Linked DNA regions of Homo sapiens: region 1 is linked to region 2. A link means that fine-mapping ties the variant in region 2 to the expression of a gene that starts in the linked region. Tissue or cell type: CD4 T cells. Region 2 holds a variant in brackets; the other region holds the start of a gene. All regions are shown on one strand. Distances are between the middles of the regions.

Region 1 (8,179 bases), 36 kb before region 2:
GCTGAGAAGAACACAGCAGCTGAGAAGAACATGAACTCTAGTAAACTCTAGTCACTCCCCTGGACCACACCCACATATATAAACACAGGATACCAGTGGTTTATCAAGATCAGGCCCTGAACTGATAATTTGCCTGGAATCTTTGTATCATTTAAAGGCAATTTACAGTAACACAGTATCTTAGGATCTGAAGGCTTTTACAAAGTTACCATTTCATGCATAACAAACCAATGTAAGTTAATCACCTGAGCTGATAGTTAAGGTATTTTTCTACTTAATTCTAAACATGTTTAGAAAAAAGACAAGAATTACTTTTTTCTTGGCATTAGCACCACAAATTTCACGTCAATTGATTCTTTGTTTATGAAACTTCAAATTTACTCAATTTCTGGAGGATCACCTTGTTTTCACCTTATTTTTTAAGTTTTTATAGGGCTGAAAATTTACAGTATGCCTATCTTTTAAAAATAATAATACACTCACCATAGAAAACTGGATTGTGATGTTTAAAATGTTTACATGAAAAATTATTTATAACAATGACAAAGATGGAAAATATGTGATATTGAGACGAAAATTATGTTGTTGACTGTCAAGTAGAGTATGGGCTTTGGAGCAGGTCTTCAGGACATGATTAGTTGAACTAATATGTAATTACTCTAACTCTTTAGCTTAATTTTATAAGATAAAGGAGGAGGTATGGAAGTTAATGTGTATTTTTCTCACAACGAAAAACCATTTAAAAATCTTTACAGACAAAGGAGAAAGCTGAGAAATTTTTCCAGAAAGTTTTTCCAGAAAATTTCAGAAGTCACTGAAATTTTTCCAGTGACTTCTGTCAATGGATAAATAAACATTTTATCTATTCATTCAGTCAACAAATATTTAAGTGCCCACAAGGTGCTAAATCCTGGGATCTGATGGCAAACTGGTAATTTTTTTTTTTTTAAGTCAGAGTCTCGCTCTGGCACCCAAGCTGGAGTGCAGTGGCATGATCTTGGCTCACTGCAACCTCTGCCTACCAGGTTCAAGTGATTCTCCTGCCTCAGCCTCCCAAGTAGCTGGAATTACAGGTACCCACCACCATGCCTGGCTAGATTTTGTATTTTTTGTAGAAACAGGGTTTTACCACGTTGCCTGCCACCACGCCCAGCTAATTTTTCTATTTTTTGTAGAAACAGGGTTTCGCCATGTTGCCCAGGCTGGCTTGAGATCCTCCCACCTTGGCCTCCCACAGTGCTGCAATTACAGGCCTGAGCCACCGCGCCCAGCCGCAAACTGGTATATCTTATTCAGACATTTATAGCATTTCCAATGTTATACACATATTTGTATACATATATAAGTAGAACACCTTTAGTGGAACACTCACTAATTTTTTTTAAGAATTTACTTTTTAGAGTAGTTTTAGGTTCACAGCAAAACTGAGCAGAAAGTACAGAAGGTTCCCATATACCCACTGCCATTCCCTCCACCAGCCTCCTCCACTATTAACATCTTGCACCAGAGCACCATATTCGTTACAACTGATGGACCTACATTAACACACCATTATCACCTAAAGTCCATAGCTTACATTAGGGTTCACTCTTGGTGGTGTATTTTCTACGGGGTTTGCCAAATATATGACATGTATACACTATTATAGGATCATACAGAATAGTTTCACTCACAGCCCTAAAAATCCTGTCATCTATTTGTCCCTCTTTCCTCTGCTCCATGGCAACCACAGATCTTTATACTGTCTTCATACTCTTCCCTTTTCTAAAGCTGTTTTAAAACGAAGTTTGGGTAAACATAGTTTAACTAGGGTCAAGTATAATATAACTGATCTTTAATCTACTGATTATACTCAATTTAGCAAATTTGTTAACTCTTAAGAATATCTACTTTCACATTTCTTTGGCCTCTTTTTTTGTGTTATTGGTCATACTGTATAAAATCCTTTGTTGTAAGGTTCCAGAAAACATTTTTGAAAAAATGCAGAATATAAAACAATGCTTAAATTAAGCAATTGGTGTTCCTCAAATCTAAGAGGGCATTTAATGATAAGATGCAGCATTATTTTATATATCACTAAGATGCACTATTATTTTATATTTGAGTAAAAGAAAACCACAAGCCATTGGCTGGGCACGGTGACTCACGCCTGTAATCCCAGCACTTTGGGAGGCCGAGGCAGGTGGATCACGAGGTCAGGAGTTCGAGACTAGCCTGAACAATATGGTGAAACCCCGTCTCTACTAAAAACACAAAAATTAGCCGGGTGTGGTGGTGTGCAAATGTAGTCCCAGCTACTGGGGAGGGTGAGACAGGAGAATTGCTTGAACTCAGGAGGCGGAGGTTCCTGTGAGCCTAGATCACGCCACTGCACTCCAGCCTTGGCGACAGAGCGAGACTCCACCTCAAAAAAAAAAAAAAAAAAAAGAAAAAACGCCAATTAACTCTAAGATGGCATTGACTGTGAGATGCATTCCCATTTCAGAGAAATTAAAATTTGTTAAAGTGTTTTTTTGAAGTGTGCCTTAGAATTAACTACAATCGTAAATTTTTGTTTGGAACGTTATTTCGATGTTAGAATTCTATTCCACTTTTTTTTAAGACAGGGACTCACTGTCACCCAGGCTGGAGTTAAGTGGCGCGATCACAGCTCACTGCAGCCGCCACTTCCCAGGATCAGGTGATCCTACCACCTCAGCCTTCCCGGTAGCTGGGACTATAGGTGCCATAACCATGCCTGGCTAATTTTTTTTTTTTTTTTTTTTTGTAGAGACAGGGTTTCATCATGTTGCCCAGGCTGGTCTCAAACTCCTGGCCTCAAGCAATCCTCCTACCTGAGTCTCCCAAACTGCTGGGATTACAGGCATGAGCCACTGCGCCTGGCCCTCCATCCTGCTATTTTTATCAGCCAGTAACTCTCAACAGTGGGAATTTGATTTTGAAGCATTGTTCTTTCCCACTGATTCTGCACCAGTGGAGCCAAGGATGTTAATCGAGGAATGGTTCGGACATTAACTCTTCTAGTTGTAGTTTGTCATTTAATTGCAGATTGAGGTAGATCATTCAGTGACTATTAACTACCATAAACAGCAATAATAAACAACTTCTTTTCTTTTTTTTAAATTCATCTATTTTTTTTCGAGACAGAGTCTCGCTCTGTCGCCCAGGCTGGAGTGCAGTGGCGCGATCTCGGCTCACTGCAACCTCCGCCCCTCCAGGTTTAAGCAATTCTCTGCCTCAGCCTCCGGAGTAGCTGGGATTACAGGCGCCTGCCACCACGCCCGGCTAATTCTTTGTATTTTTAGTAGAGACGGGGTTTCACCATCTAGGCCAGGCCGGTCTTGAACTCCTGACCTCATGCTCCACCTGCCTCCGCCTCCCAAAGTGCTGGGACTACAGGTGTGAGCCACCGCGCCCAGCCACAACTTCTTTTCAAAATTGAATTCAATTCTGAAATATCTCAAGGGAGGTCATGGATTATTTAAAAGGAAATCACTTGCAACAATAAACATAAAACAATGCAGAAATAGTATAAACTCATCTAGATTGAAGAAACACAAACATTGAGTACTAGCATCTTCTTGGGATGACTTAAAATTAGGACAAATACTTAGTTACCTTACTACCCAAAGTGACATTTCTTCCCATTTTAGAGCTGTGCTGTCCACACGTACAATTAAAATTTTCTAGTAGCTAGCCAAAGTATTTAAAAAGAGAAATTAACTTAATAATTTACCTAATTTAATGTAGTATGTCCAAAATATTACCTTTTCAACATGCAATCAATATAAAATTTACTAACGAGATGGTCTTCCACATCTGGTGTACTGTTTACTCCACAGAGTGGCAAGCTGCCTTTCCAACCCTCACTTAGCCACATGCGGCTACCGTATTGGATGGCAGTCTTAGGGAATTTCAATATCAACTGATTCTTTAATTCTGAATTTGAGAATTTCTTTTTATAATACACACGGTCGCTAAGGCGCTTAGAGATCTGTGAGGCGCATGGAGATTATTTTACTCTCCGGTCCCTTTTGATCCAAGATCCCACAGCATTAAAAGCAGTAAGAGGGAAGGCAATGGGCATCCCTTGCGCCCAGGAACGTGGCCTGGAGGGCCTGGCTGCTCCGAGCAGTAGCAGTGCCCGGCGGGGAGGCTGCAGACGCGGCGTTGGAAGTTGGATTTCTAGACAAGCTCCGGCAGCTGCCCGGAACCCGTGTCTTTTTCTGGGGCACCCAGGAACAGCAGGGCCAGACGGAGAGAGAGCAGCCTCCAGCCAGGCACAGGGTCCCGAGCTGCCACCGACACCGAGGGAGCCCGGCCCAGGGCTGCAGCGCTTTCCGCCTAGGTGGGCGGCAGCGGGAGCGAGGAGCCGGAGGAAGCCCGGCCTGCGTCCTGCGGGCAGCAGGACACGATCTCCCCGGCGCGCTCTCGCCGGCGCCGCAGCGGGCGCGCGGGCGACAGGGTGGGCGTGGACCGATGGGGGCACCGCCCCTGGGAGAGGCGGGCGCCGCGGTTCCGGGGGCGGGACGCGCCGAGGAGTGGGGCGCGAGCCGCCGGTTTTGATTAGTGCGCGGAGCTGCGGCGGTGGAGCTGCTCGGCCGGGAGCCCGGCGGCGAGACGGAGAGGCGGCGGAGGTGCCCGCGCGCAGGGTCTGGTGGGCGGCCGCGAGGCTCGGGAGAGGCGAACCGGAGCGCGGGACCGCGGTCGCCCCGACCAGAGCCGGGAGACCGCAGCACCCGCAGCCGCCCGCGAGCGCGCCGAAGACAGCGCGCAGGCGAGAGCGCGCGGGCGGGGGCGCGCAGGCCCTGCCCGCCCCTTCCGTCCCCACCCCCCTCCGCCCTTTCCTCTCCCCACCTTCCTCTCGCCTCCCGCGCCCCCGCACCGGGCGCCCACCCTGTCCTCCTCCTGCGGGAGCGTTGTCCGTGTTGGCGGCCGCAGCGGGCCGGGCCGGTCCGGCGGGCCGGGGGATGGCGCTGCTGGACCTGGCCTTGGAGGGAATGGCCGTCTTCGGGTTCGTCCTCTTCTTGGTGCTGTGGCTGATGCATTTCATGGCTATCATCTACACGTGAGTGAGGGACCGCAGGAGGGGCTCGGGGCAGGGGTCCGGGCCTCGGAGACAGGCGAGAATGGGAAACGTTTGCGCTTTGAAGGGGACTGGGCTCGGGCGGGGGTGGAGAAAGCTGATCGTCAGGCTGTTCCCCCCGTTCCCTCGCCCCTCGGACCGGCGGTGGCGGTGGTCTTTGCGAGGGAAAAGTGTTGGGCGTGGGAAGGGTTTGCTGGGTTGCAGGCGACTGCCCAGCCAGGCTAAAGGAGACTGCTCTTACGTGTCAGGCTGAAGGTGGTGGCTTGGTTTGATTGTGCTGGGGATTCGTGTAATTTTTCATCTGGGCCGAGATGTATGGTGTATTGTTTTTTTCTCCCGACCTGGGCCACGTTTCTGTTAGGGTGGTGATTGTGTCCACTTTTCTGGGAGCTGCTCACAGCTATCTGGACACCTCTCTGTGGATTTTCTTCTTCCTGGAAGGGCTCTATGCGCTTAGATAGGTGTGAAGCACCTGTCCACCCTGAAAAATGTCCACCAAACCTCCGAGCTGGCATGATAGCTTTGAGTCCTGTCAGCTTGTACATCTCAGCGTGGTTTTCTTTCCTTTTTTCAGTTCCTCGTTTTATTGTTTTATGTAGATTTGTACTCTCCCCGTGCCGGCCACATCTTTTCATTTTTGTTTAACAAATACTTCTTGAGGCCTACTAGATACCATTCACTGTTATTGGCCAGGGGACATGGTGGTGAGCAGGACAGAATTCCTGTCCTCATGAGTCTTACATTCTAGAAGGAAGGAGCAGATAAAATCTAAATAAGGTTATGAGATTGTGACGAAGCGTGTAAGTAAAATAGAACTGGGTGATGGCGTGAATAGAGACATGGGTTATGTGGCTAGTTTGGTATATCCACTGTTTAAGGTGAAATCTGCCTCTGTAAAGAAATGAAAAAATTATATAGAGCACATTACTGATATCGATTCACTTGGATTTTTAGTCTGGGGGGAGAAAAGAGCAATTGTATATAGTAATCGTTACCATGAACTAGAATAGAGTGTATGTTAGTGGAAGAGACTTTAAGAAATTAGTTACTTTTAGTTTTTTGGTTTTTTTTTTTTCCTTTTTACTGCGGAAAAAGTGTGCCTTTGCTTTTGGAAACACTGTATTTTATTAGTATAGTGTGGCATTTCCTGGTACTGAGAAAGATGATGCTGGTACAGGTTATACTGATATTTCTTTGAAAGTGAAAGAAAACATGCCACTTGGATATTGTTGACTTTAGTTTTTGGAGTTGGTGAGCTTAGTCACAGCACATTCTGGAGTTCATTTAAAATATGTGAGTTCTTTTTCTTTAAAAAAATTGTTACTTTTTACCGTCATAAAAATAAAAAATGCTTACTGTGTAAGGAATTTATGCAATAGAGAGAGATGGAGAAAATTAAAATATGCACACACCAAAACTACATTACCTTGTTAACCTTTTGTGACTATCCTTCCAATCTGTGTGTGTGTGTGAGAGAGAGAGAAGGAGGGAGGGGAAGAGGGAAGAGAGAAAAGGACTATATTATGATTATTGTTCTGTAACCTGCTTTAAAGTTCATCTGTTTAATAAATGTTTATTGAAAAGCCGTTTTGTGCAAGGCACTGTTCTAGTTGCTGGAAGAGTGAAGAACAAACATACAAGGCCCCTGTTCACATGGAACTGTCCTGTAAAATGTCTTGACCGTTTTTTGCATGTCAATATCTGTATGATCTCTACATCATTTGTAATAGATGCATGATATTTTAGTTTACCAGGTACCAAGATTTATTTATTATTACTGATGGATGTTTAGGTTGTTTCCAATTTATCTAGATTACAAAGAACACTGTGATGAATTTATATGCATACATCTTTGAGAAATGATCTCATTTATATTTCCGAAAGAGGAATTATTGGGCCAGAAGTGGTGCACATTTTAAACTTTGATACATATTGGCCCCATGGAAATGTTATGTATATTCACAGTCCTGGTAACATTGTATGATGGCCCCATTTTGCCTTACAAACACTAAGTAGCAGGCATTTCACTGTTTTCTGTTTCTATTTTCATTCCTTTAAAGTTACATTGAGCACTTTTAAAATATGTTTATATGCTAGTTACATTTAGATGTAAATTACATACTCATAATCCTTTGCCTGTGCTGCAATCTGTTGCTGAATTCATCTTTCTGATATAAAGGTTGTTTTCTGTCACATGTAGCATTCTTTTCCCCAGTCTGTTTTTTGTCTTTTAACTTTGTACATATATTTGACATGGAGAAAAGTGTGTGTGCATGTGTGTTTTAGGTAGATAGGTCTTTCCGTTTCTTTTACATTTTCTAACTCTGTTATAATTTTTATATCTTCCTTATTCCTCCAAATTATTATATATGTTAGTCTCTGCTTCCTCTTAGTATTTTTTTCTTAATTTTTTCACATATTACCCTGAATTCACCCAGTATTTTACTTCGTTATATGAGAGCTAGAGCCCTAATTATAGTTTCTTCTAAATATTTAGAGACTTGTCCAGAATTACTTATCAGATGATTATTTGATTATTCCACTGTTTTGAAATATTTTTATTATAAACTAAATTCTGCTTTATACTTGGGTATGTTTCAAAGCTTCTATTGCCCTTTCTTAACCTATTTTAGATGGCAGATGTTTGTAGGATTTCTGCCAACAATGTCAAAGGTAACATTCAGATTAGAGACATTTCAAATTCAAGAGTCTTATTGTTGAGATTGAAGATTTCCTAAAAATAACTAAAGAGTATAGCCTTGGCAAGTTAAATAGCCTTTATGGGTTAATTTTTTTTTTTTTTTTTAATGGTAAGTGCTAGTGTGGCTTGATAGGTTGGGGCCTAAGGTGAAATTGTATAAAAGCCTAGACCTGATGGTAGTGTTTCTCTTCTAGCCCTTGGGAGCCACGTTGCTGCGTGATGAAGTGATCTAAGCAGAAACCTTGCTTCATGCTCTCTTCCCTATCCCATCCACCTCATATTATTATTATTTCCCTGTGTACATAAGGTCCTAATGTTTATCATCAGGCTTTATCTTTCGACTGGAGGTGCTAGGCTAGTGTGGAAATAATTTATGTGTCCTTAAATATTAG
Region 2 (8,189 bases):
GATACAGATGTCAATAACATCTCTGTGATGTGTATGTCAATAAACATCTCCCAGAATACACCCATTGCCTTAGTGTAGGTTTAATCTCTGGAAGTCACTCTGCCATACTTAGAATTAATCATTCTCAACTGTAAAGAGCACATTCAGCTCAGTGACTAACATCTCATTCCTAAGACCTCAATAACTACTAAGGAATTAAGATATGTGCCTCTGTTCTTAGAAGTCAGGTTCAGTTCAGTCCCACAAACACTAGGGCTTCACTGGAGTCTGGGTTCAGGGTAGGTAGCAAGAATCATAATCATAATTGCCCCTTAGAATTCTCTTGCTCTGCACTGTGTGTGTAACTCCTAAGAAAGATGACTACTCTTTATTTCAGGCTAATTAGAAAAGGCAACATATCTGAGGTGTAAATAATAAATAGGATTTTATGTCTACTAAGTAGGGTAATAACAGTCCTTTTCTACCATTGATTTATCAGCGTATATATCTTATGACTTCAGAGTATATGCAGAGAAATGGCAGTAGCGGATGAGAGAATTTTAGTATCCCCGTTATGAAAAATACATTGAAAAAAATGGAGAAATTGGGAAGAATCTTAGTGACTAAGGGAGAGGGAGCAGCTAGCTACAAAAGGATGCAAGAAAAGGAATTAAGAAATAGGATTGTGTCCCCTCCCCACCCCCCACCCCCCAAAAAAATAGGATTGTCCCGAAGGTTGATATACCTATGGGTGGTGTGTGTATGCATGCATGTATATATACACACATATACGTAACATACAAATATGTATATTGATCCCAGTAAAGTAGATGTGTGTGTATATTTACATGAACACCCTAAAAACAAGATACATTGAATATTTGTTAATATTTTATATATCAATGAGTGATATTTTTACCTTATTTTGTATCTAAATTAAGTTTTATTTGGATGCATTTTTAGCTTACTAACTGTGCTTGCTCTATGAAAGCAATATTGTCTACCACTTTTTATTCAGGTAGTCTACGTAAGAATAATAAGATATTCACTCAATCATACTTATAAAAAAACCATTGGGAAAAACAGTTCGTGAACACCATGCTTTTAACATGAAATTCTAATCATACACGTTTGTGGTTTTTTGGGCAGGTATATTTTGGAACTTCACATCCAAGATACTATATCTCTGCCAATGTAACTGGTTTCAAATGTGTGACAGGAATGTCTTGTTTAATGAGAAAAGATGTGTTGGATCAAGCAGGAGGACTTATAGCTTTTGCTCAGTACATTGCCGAAGATTACTTTATGGCCAAAGCGATAGCTGACCGGTAAGACAACTAAATGAAGCCATAGTATTTTTATTACCTAACTTCTGTTGGTTTATTCTTTTTGTTCAACCTATAGATTAGGGCTTTTTAATTTAATTTTATTTTTTTTGCTAGTAAGTACAGAATAGGTCAATAATTTTATTATTTTGTTTGTTTTTGAGACAGAGTCTTGCTCTGTCACCTAGGCTGGAGTGCAGTGGCGCGATCTTGGCTCACTGTAGCCTCTGCCTCCCGGGTTCAGGTGATTCTCATGCCTCAGCCACCAGAGCACCTGGGACTACAGGCATGTACCACCATGCACACTAATTTTTGTATTTTTAGTAGAGATGGGGTTTCTTCATGTTGGCCAGGCTGGTCTTGAACTCCTGAACTCAAGTGATCTGCCCACCTCGGCCTCCTAAAGTGCTGGGATTACAGGTATGAGCCACCACACCCAGCAGATCAATAATTTTATAGAGTAATTCATATTCTAATTATAGAATTGTAGATATGTACTAATGAAGAAGGTAAATGTTCTGATTCCTCTACATTTTTCAAATTAATGTGTTTTAAAGCGATTAAAAGTAAGTTTCTCTGTGTTTAGAATTTTTACTATATAGATACAAATTTCTGTGTTTTAGAAGAATTAAAACTATCAGTGCAGTCATAAACTAGTAGGTGAAAATTTAAAGACTATCATTTCAAAATTTGAAATTTGTCAGTGAATTATATGATACTTTGCTAAGAAGCCACTGAAAGATTCATATGACTGACTTAGCATTTCTCTATCACAAAATACTTGTTTTGTTTTGGTTTTTTTTTTTTTTTTTGAGACAGTCTCGCCCTGACATCCAGGCTGGAGTGCAGTGGCGCAATCTCGGCTCACTGCAGTCTCCGCCTCCTGGGTTCAAACGATTCTCCTGCCTCAGCCTCCCAAGTAGCTGGGATTATAGGCACCCGCCGCCACACTCAGCTACTTTTTTTTGTATGTTAGTAGAGGCGGGGTTTCACCATGTTGGCCAGGCTAGTCTTGAACTCCTGACCTCGTGATCCGCCCGCCTCAGCCTCCCAAAGTGCTGGGATTACAGGCATGAGCCACTGCATCCAGCCTAAAATACTTGTTTTTAAAGGAGATCACTGCCTTGTGTGAGAATTCTTTTAAATTTTTTAAAAACTGAAGTGTGTTTTAAATACAAATTCTGTCATGATTGTGTTCATGTGGTTCATGGTTTCCTAGTGTCTCCCATGAGATCCATAATGCCACTTTCTGTTTACATGTCTTGTTGTTTGGTTAGTAGTCATCAGAGACTAATCTATTAAATATGGAGCCCTCTCCATTTTTTTTCAAAATGACTGCATTTTAAGTTTCTTAAATTGTAAAGTAAGGTGGGTACAGTTTCTTCTAGTTCTTAGATGGTGCTGTCACGGGCCAGCATAATTGCTAAAACATCCATACGTATGGTAGACCTTAAGTCATGTGCTAATCATGAAAGCTGGGCTCACCCTGAATACCGGCAGTTGCCTGGTCTTTATAATGATTACTGAATGCATAACCAGTTACGCTTGCATGTGTTCATCATCATAACTTATTTTCTAATTATCTTAATTTTCAGAGGTTGGAGGTTTGCAATGTCCACTCAAGTTGCAATGCAAAACTCTGGCTCATATTCAATTTCTCAGTTTCAATCCAGAATGATCAGGTAAATCAACTGTTTTCTTTTTATACTTCGTTAAAAGGAAAGTGGGGAGGGGGGTGGTAATTTTTACAGGTTTAATGTAGTTAAATGAATGTACCTAAAGGTTGAAGATTTTTGTTTAGTTGCAGAAAATAGAGTTTAACGTCTGTGTTTAAGATAAATTTAATGTCTAAATGTATTTTATTTGCTGTATAACACTGAAAGCACTCATTAGAGAAATGTTGAGACTGAATTTTTTAATATGCTGATCTTTATTTTCTAACTTTCTGTGCTGATTAAATTTTATTATCTGTATTCATCAGAGCGTAGGCCATACAAATGAATTTAAAGACATTTTTCTTTGACATCCTAGACAAAAATAGAAAAGAGAGTCATTAAAAAAAATTTTTAGGTTGTGTGTGGTGGCTCACACCTGTAATCCCAGCGCTTTGGGAGGCCAAGGCGAGAGGACTGCTTGAGCCCAGGAGTTTGAGACCAGCCTGGGCAAAATGGTGAAACCCTGTCTCTACAAAAAATGCAAAAATTAGCCAGGTGTGGTGGCGTGTACACCTGTGGTCCCAGCTACTTGGTGGGATGAGGTGGGAAGATCGCTTGAGCCTGGGAGATTGAAGCTACAGTGAGTGCCACTGCACTCCAGCCTGGGTGACAGAGCAGAACCCCGTCTCAAGTAAAAAAAAAAAAACAAAACAAAAAAAGTTTAAAGAGAATGGTCTTTCTATCACAGGGTAAAAAAATTGATTATTTGAGGGAAAAAAAAAAGGATTTGTCTTGTAGCCAGGATATTGTTTTAAAGAAAATCCTTTTTGTTTTTCCAGGTGGACCAAACTACGAATTAACATGCTTCCTGCTACAATAATTTGTGAGCCAATTTCAGAATGCTTTGTTGCCAGTTTAATTATTGGATGGGCAGCCCACCATGTGTTCAGATGGGATATTATGGTATTTTTCATGTGTCATTGCCTGGCATGGTTTATATTTGACTACATTCAACTCAGGGGTGTCCAGGTATGTGGATAGGCATGAAAAGGTTGGCAGTCCCTTGGTGGAACTAGAACTATTTCAATTTAGAAAAAGTTGAAGGAAATGTATCTGAGCCATTCTTCAGCTTCCCATTGTAGGTTAGTCTCGGGTTTGAACATGACTTTCTCTAGTGGAATGTTGATGCAAAACTTAAGTCGATTTGCAACTTTCTATTGGTTATATAATCGCTTTTATTAAGTTTCCAAAAACATGAAGTTAATTAAATCAGTGAGTATTGAAACTAATAAGACATTAAGATAGCAGTTATTTTAATGCTTCATTAACAATTAGCATTTTCTTGAACGGTATAACATGGCAGTTAAATTACATAAGGAAGCAGACTTGATTTTACATAGTATACTTAGAAAAGTGAAATCCAAGAATTTAATTTTTTAACCTTGTCTTTAGTTTGACAGTGAGTGAAATTAAAAAATTTTTTTTTCCATTCCTAGGGTGGCACACTGTGTTTTTCAAAACTTGATTATGCAGTCGCCTGGTTCATCCGCGAATCCATGACAATATACATTTTTTTGTCTGCATTATGGGACCCAACTATAAGCTGGAGAACTGGTCGCTACAGATTACGCTGTGGGGGTACAGCAGAGGAAATCCTAGATGTATAACTACAGCTTTGTGACTGTATATAAAGGAAAAAAGAGAAGTATTATAAATTATGTTTATATAAATGCTTTTAAAAATCTACCTTCTGTAGTTTTATCACATGTATGTTTTGGTATCTGTTCTTTAATTTATTTTTGCATGGCACTTGCATCTGT[G/GA]AAAAAAAAAAAAAACACATCTGTAGTCTTGGCCAAATGATACACTTTATTTTGTGGAAGTAGAGAATCAAGAGAATTGGTTCTAGGAACCTGGGTTCGTTCATCATTGTTGTTTATTTTTTTAAAATAAATAAATAAATATATATATAGATGCTCTGCAACAAACTCTGTGACAGTATCCTTCAGTAGAGAAAGTTTCTTACTTGTGAGTACACTCTTTTAGAACATTTACGGGTGGCAGCAGCTTTGCTTTAGAGTTTAGAAGATAATAGAAGGAATGACTATTCATGTCCAAAGTGAATGGTTTTGTGCAGTGAACAACACATGGCGAGGTACTAACTGAGAAACTTTTTCATGCTTTATGCCTACCTCTTGTAGTTGTTGCAGAGCAAATATAAATTGTAATAAGATAGCTAGGCCTTGCAGAAACAAACAGAAAAACTTAAAAAAAAATGATATAAGAGCTGGAGTCTAGTATTTATATGAATCTGTGAGAGATAATTTTTTTGGTCTCACTGCAATGAACCAAAAGCGGCTGAGTTTGGTTTTTAATTGTAGCCATGTATTGAAGGCATCTTTTTGACCAACTCTTGTTGGTTCTGTCTTGAACCATTGTTAATCACTGTGCTGTAATTAGTATAGCTAAATCTTTTCCTTCCTTGCTCCTCCCCCAGCCCACCCCGTCTTCCCTTAACATTTTTTCAGGGGGGGTTGGGAGTGGTTTCATTTTAGTGTGAGTGGATGTTTTGATAGTTGTAAGGAAAAAATGCATTTCAGACACATTTCACACATGAGCTATTTTCTTACACAGTATGTCTTATTGTTAATAAGAATGTAATTTCATGATACAAGTATTTAATACCTTTTTTAAGTCAGTAAATATTCTAGCCATCAATAAATTGCAGTAGAGTATTAAGAGGGGACAGGATGAGTTTACTCTTAAAATTAATCAGTATCAAACTAAGTCTACTGTGTGTGTTTTTTTTTTTTGTTTTTTGTTTTTGTTTGTTTACTATTATAGTAAGTCTAGTCTTATTTAAATTGGATTTTTGTATTCAAGTTTATATGACAAAATAGACTAGATCAGCGCTGGTTGTAAATGCATGCTGTACCTCACTGTTTTCTCCCCATCATGCCGCTAAACTTGCTCGCCAGGTTGTGCTTAACTTGTGGTGAACTGGACTTGATTCTGTTTTGTTTTGTTTTTTTAAAAAAAAAAAACAAAAATGTAAGGGACAGTGCATAAGCCTTTTCTTTGTTAAGTAGTGGTGTTTTGCTTTTTCTTCAGGATTGGATGGCATGTTGTCCACAGGAATGCCTACTGCAGGGCTAACACTGGCAATATGGCAGCTTTAAATTCTGAGTTACTACAGTCTCCATGTCAAAGCATAATGTGTAGCATATCAGCAATAACTACATATTTATAGAAAACACTTTTTCACTTTACTGAGCCAATTCATTTAATTGTCAAATGTCTATATCCATGGTTTAAATGGCAACATATCTATAAGTATGTATACACATTATATTTAAGCTTTTCTCTGGGCCAAACTGCTTCATCCTTTTTTCTTTCTTTTTTTTTTTTTTTAGCCTTATGATGAATTTGTTTGAAGGGCATTTTCTTTATGAACAAAGGCTTGGATGCATATTCCTTTCTTTCTGTGAATGGGTATTATTCCCTGAGGAAAGTTGCACAGTGAAAACCAGTCTGGTTGTGACCCACTACATGTTTTGTTTTTAATCACTATTACCTGAGTTGAACTTTGCTCACCATGTTTGTACTTGTTGGTCTGTTTAATGAAGTTTGGTTGATGCCATCCTTTGCACTGCCGAAGCGTAATCTTGTGTATTACTTAGCTCTCTGCTGATCTCAGTATGGACAGTGTAACAACAAAACCAAAATGGCTGGACAGACTTCTTGTGTTTTGTAAATATAAACTAGGACAGTTCTGTAGGTTTGTTCAGTGTGCTAGTGGAGTATTTCCTTAATGTAAAACTTCACTTAACAGAGAGATTCTTTGTTTAGCAAGCTTGGAGTGATGATAAAATGGTAAGAAATAATATAAATGTTGAAGAAAGCATCACAACAGAACTATAGGAGTCTAAATTTAATAAATCTTTAAAAAAAACCAGTGTCTAGAATATATACCATGTTTTATTATTTAAAATCATTGTCTTAAATTTTTGTTCAAAAAATAAAAATTTGAATACAATCAAAACGTTAGCAATAGTGTATTTTTTGTTCTTCTGTATTTTTATAAGTAGCATGTTCCACCATTCACATCAGAATTATTAGAAGAGTTCTGTCAAGTATTCCTTTTGAAATCTTCCTTTTACCTGAGCCATAGGTAAAATAAATAAGGACATAGGCAGTCCTGTGACTTAAGTATGGCTTTTCTACATTGGTTGCCTGTTAAAATCACCTGGAGAACTTGTAAAAAAAAAAAAAAATACACAACACACACCCTGGGCCCTGTACACAACACACACACACACCCTGGGCCCTGTACACAACACACACACACACCCTGGGCCCTGCCCACATAGATTTTGGTGTAATTATTTTGGGTGAGGCCTGAGCTCTTCTACCCGTGATTCTACTGTGAGAATGACTGGCTCGTAATGACCTTTAGAAAAGAGCCAGTGGTCCTTTGGGCCCCTCTCCCCCCGGGCTCACAGCTTGAACTCAGCCTTTTAGATCTTACCACTCTAATGGCTAGAAAATGTAAATCCAAAGGAAGGAATGGAGTGGCATTATTACTTGAGACCCAGATGGGAGATGCACCTTACATACTTTCCAAGGCCAGGTCCCTCCCAAGCTGGAAGCCTTTACAGGCCTGTTTTACCACCATCCCATGAGAAAAGAATGTTCTTAACTGGAGAACAAATCCGGGGTAGAAAGAATCCGCTCTCAGCTGATATTTTTGTCTCTCCGTAGTTCCTGTGTTGAAACCTAATGCCCAATGTGAGGAGGGTCTTTCAAGGTGAGGCCTTTGGTAGGTGATCAGAGCCGTCAGGATGGGATTGATGCTTATAAAGGAAACCCCAGAGAGCTTTCTTGCCTCTTCCGCCATGTGAGGATACGGCAAAAAGGTGACCAGCTATGAACCAGAAAGTCAGCTTTTACTAGCCACTAAATCTGCCAGGGCCTTGATCTTAAACATTCCAGCCTCCAAAACTGAGAAAGTTTTGTTGTTTATAACCCACCCAGTCTATGGTATTCTGTTATCGGAGCCGTAAGACACAGTCTAAAAGGGATCTGGCCCAGTAAACAAACATTCCTTCTCATTTGTGTACTTCTAACCCTACAGTTTAAGAAATGATCAACACAAAGTTGAGTATGTCTTAGAATTTCATAGCTAGGTGGATCTTGAGGATCCCTCACCCTTATTTTAGAATGAAGAAGCTGA

Direction of the effects. Alleles are on the strand shown, and positions count from the first base shown. SD is a standard deviation of normalised expression in the study named.
As copies of GA replace G in region 2, the expression in CD4 T cells of the gene that starts at base 4,569 in region 1 goes up (moderate effect, 0.50 SD a copy in CEDAR).

Evidence for each region. PIP is the estimated chance that this variant, and not a neighbour inherited with it, causes the effect.
Region 1: UGCG starts here. The variant in region 2 is fine-mapped to the expression of UGCG in CD4 T cells (CEDAR, PIP 0.95).

Annotation. Positions count from the first base shown.
Region 1 is chr9:111,892,246-111,900,424 of GRCh38, forward strand. UGCG (UDP-glucose ceramide glucosyltransferase) reads left to right here and starts at 4,569. Exons shown (of 9, transcript NM_003358.3): 1 at 4,569-5,068. The coding sequence starts at 4,971. RefSeq lists an enhancer at 4,020-4,603 and silencers at 4,224-4,813, 4,924-5,013.
Region 2 is chr9:111,928,372-111,936,560 of GRCh38, forward strand. UGCG (UDP-glucose ceramide glucosyltransferase) reads left to right here. Exons shown (of 9, transcript NM_003358.3): 6 at 1,129-1,307; 7 at 2,900-2,986; 8 at 3,799-3,988; 9 at 4,456-6,998. The coding sequence ends at 4,626. MIR4668 (microRNA 4668) reads left to right here and starts at 3,729; the gene lies at 3,729-3,798. The variant G/GA (reference allele first, on the strand shown) is at 4,780.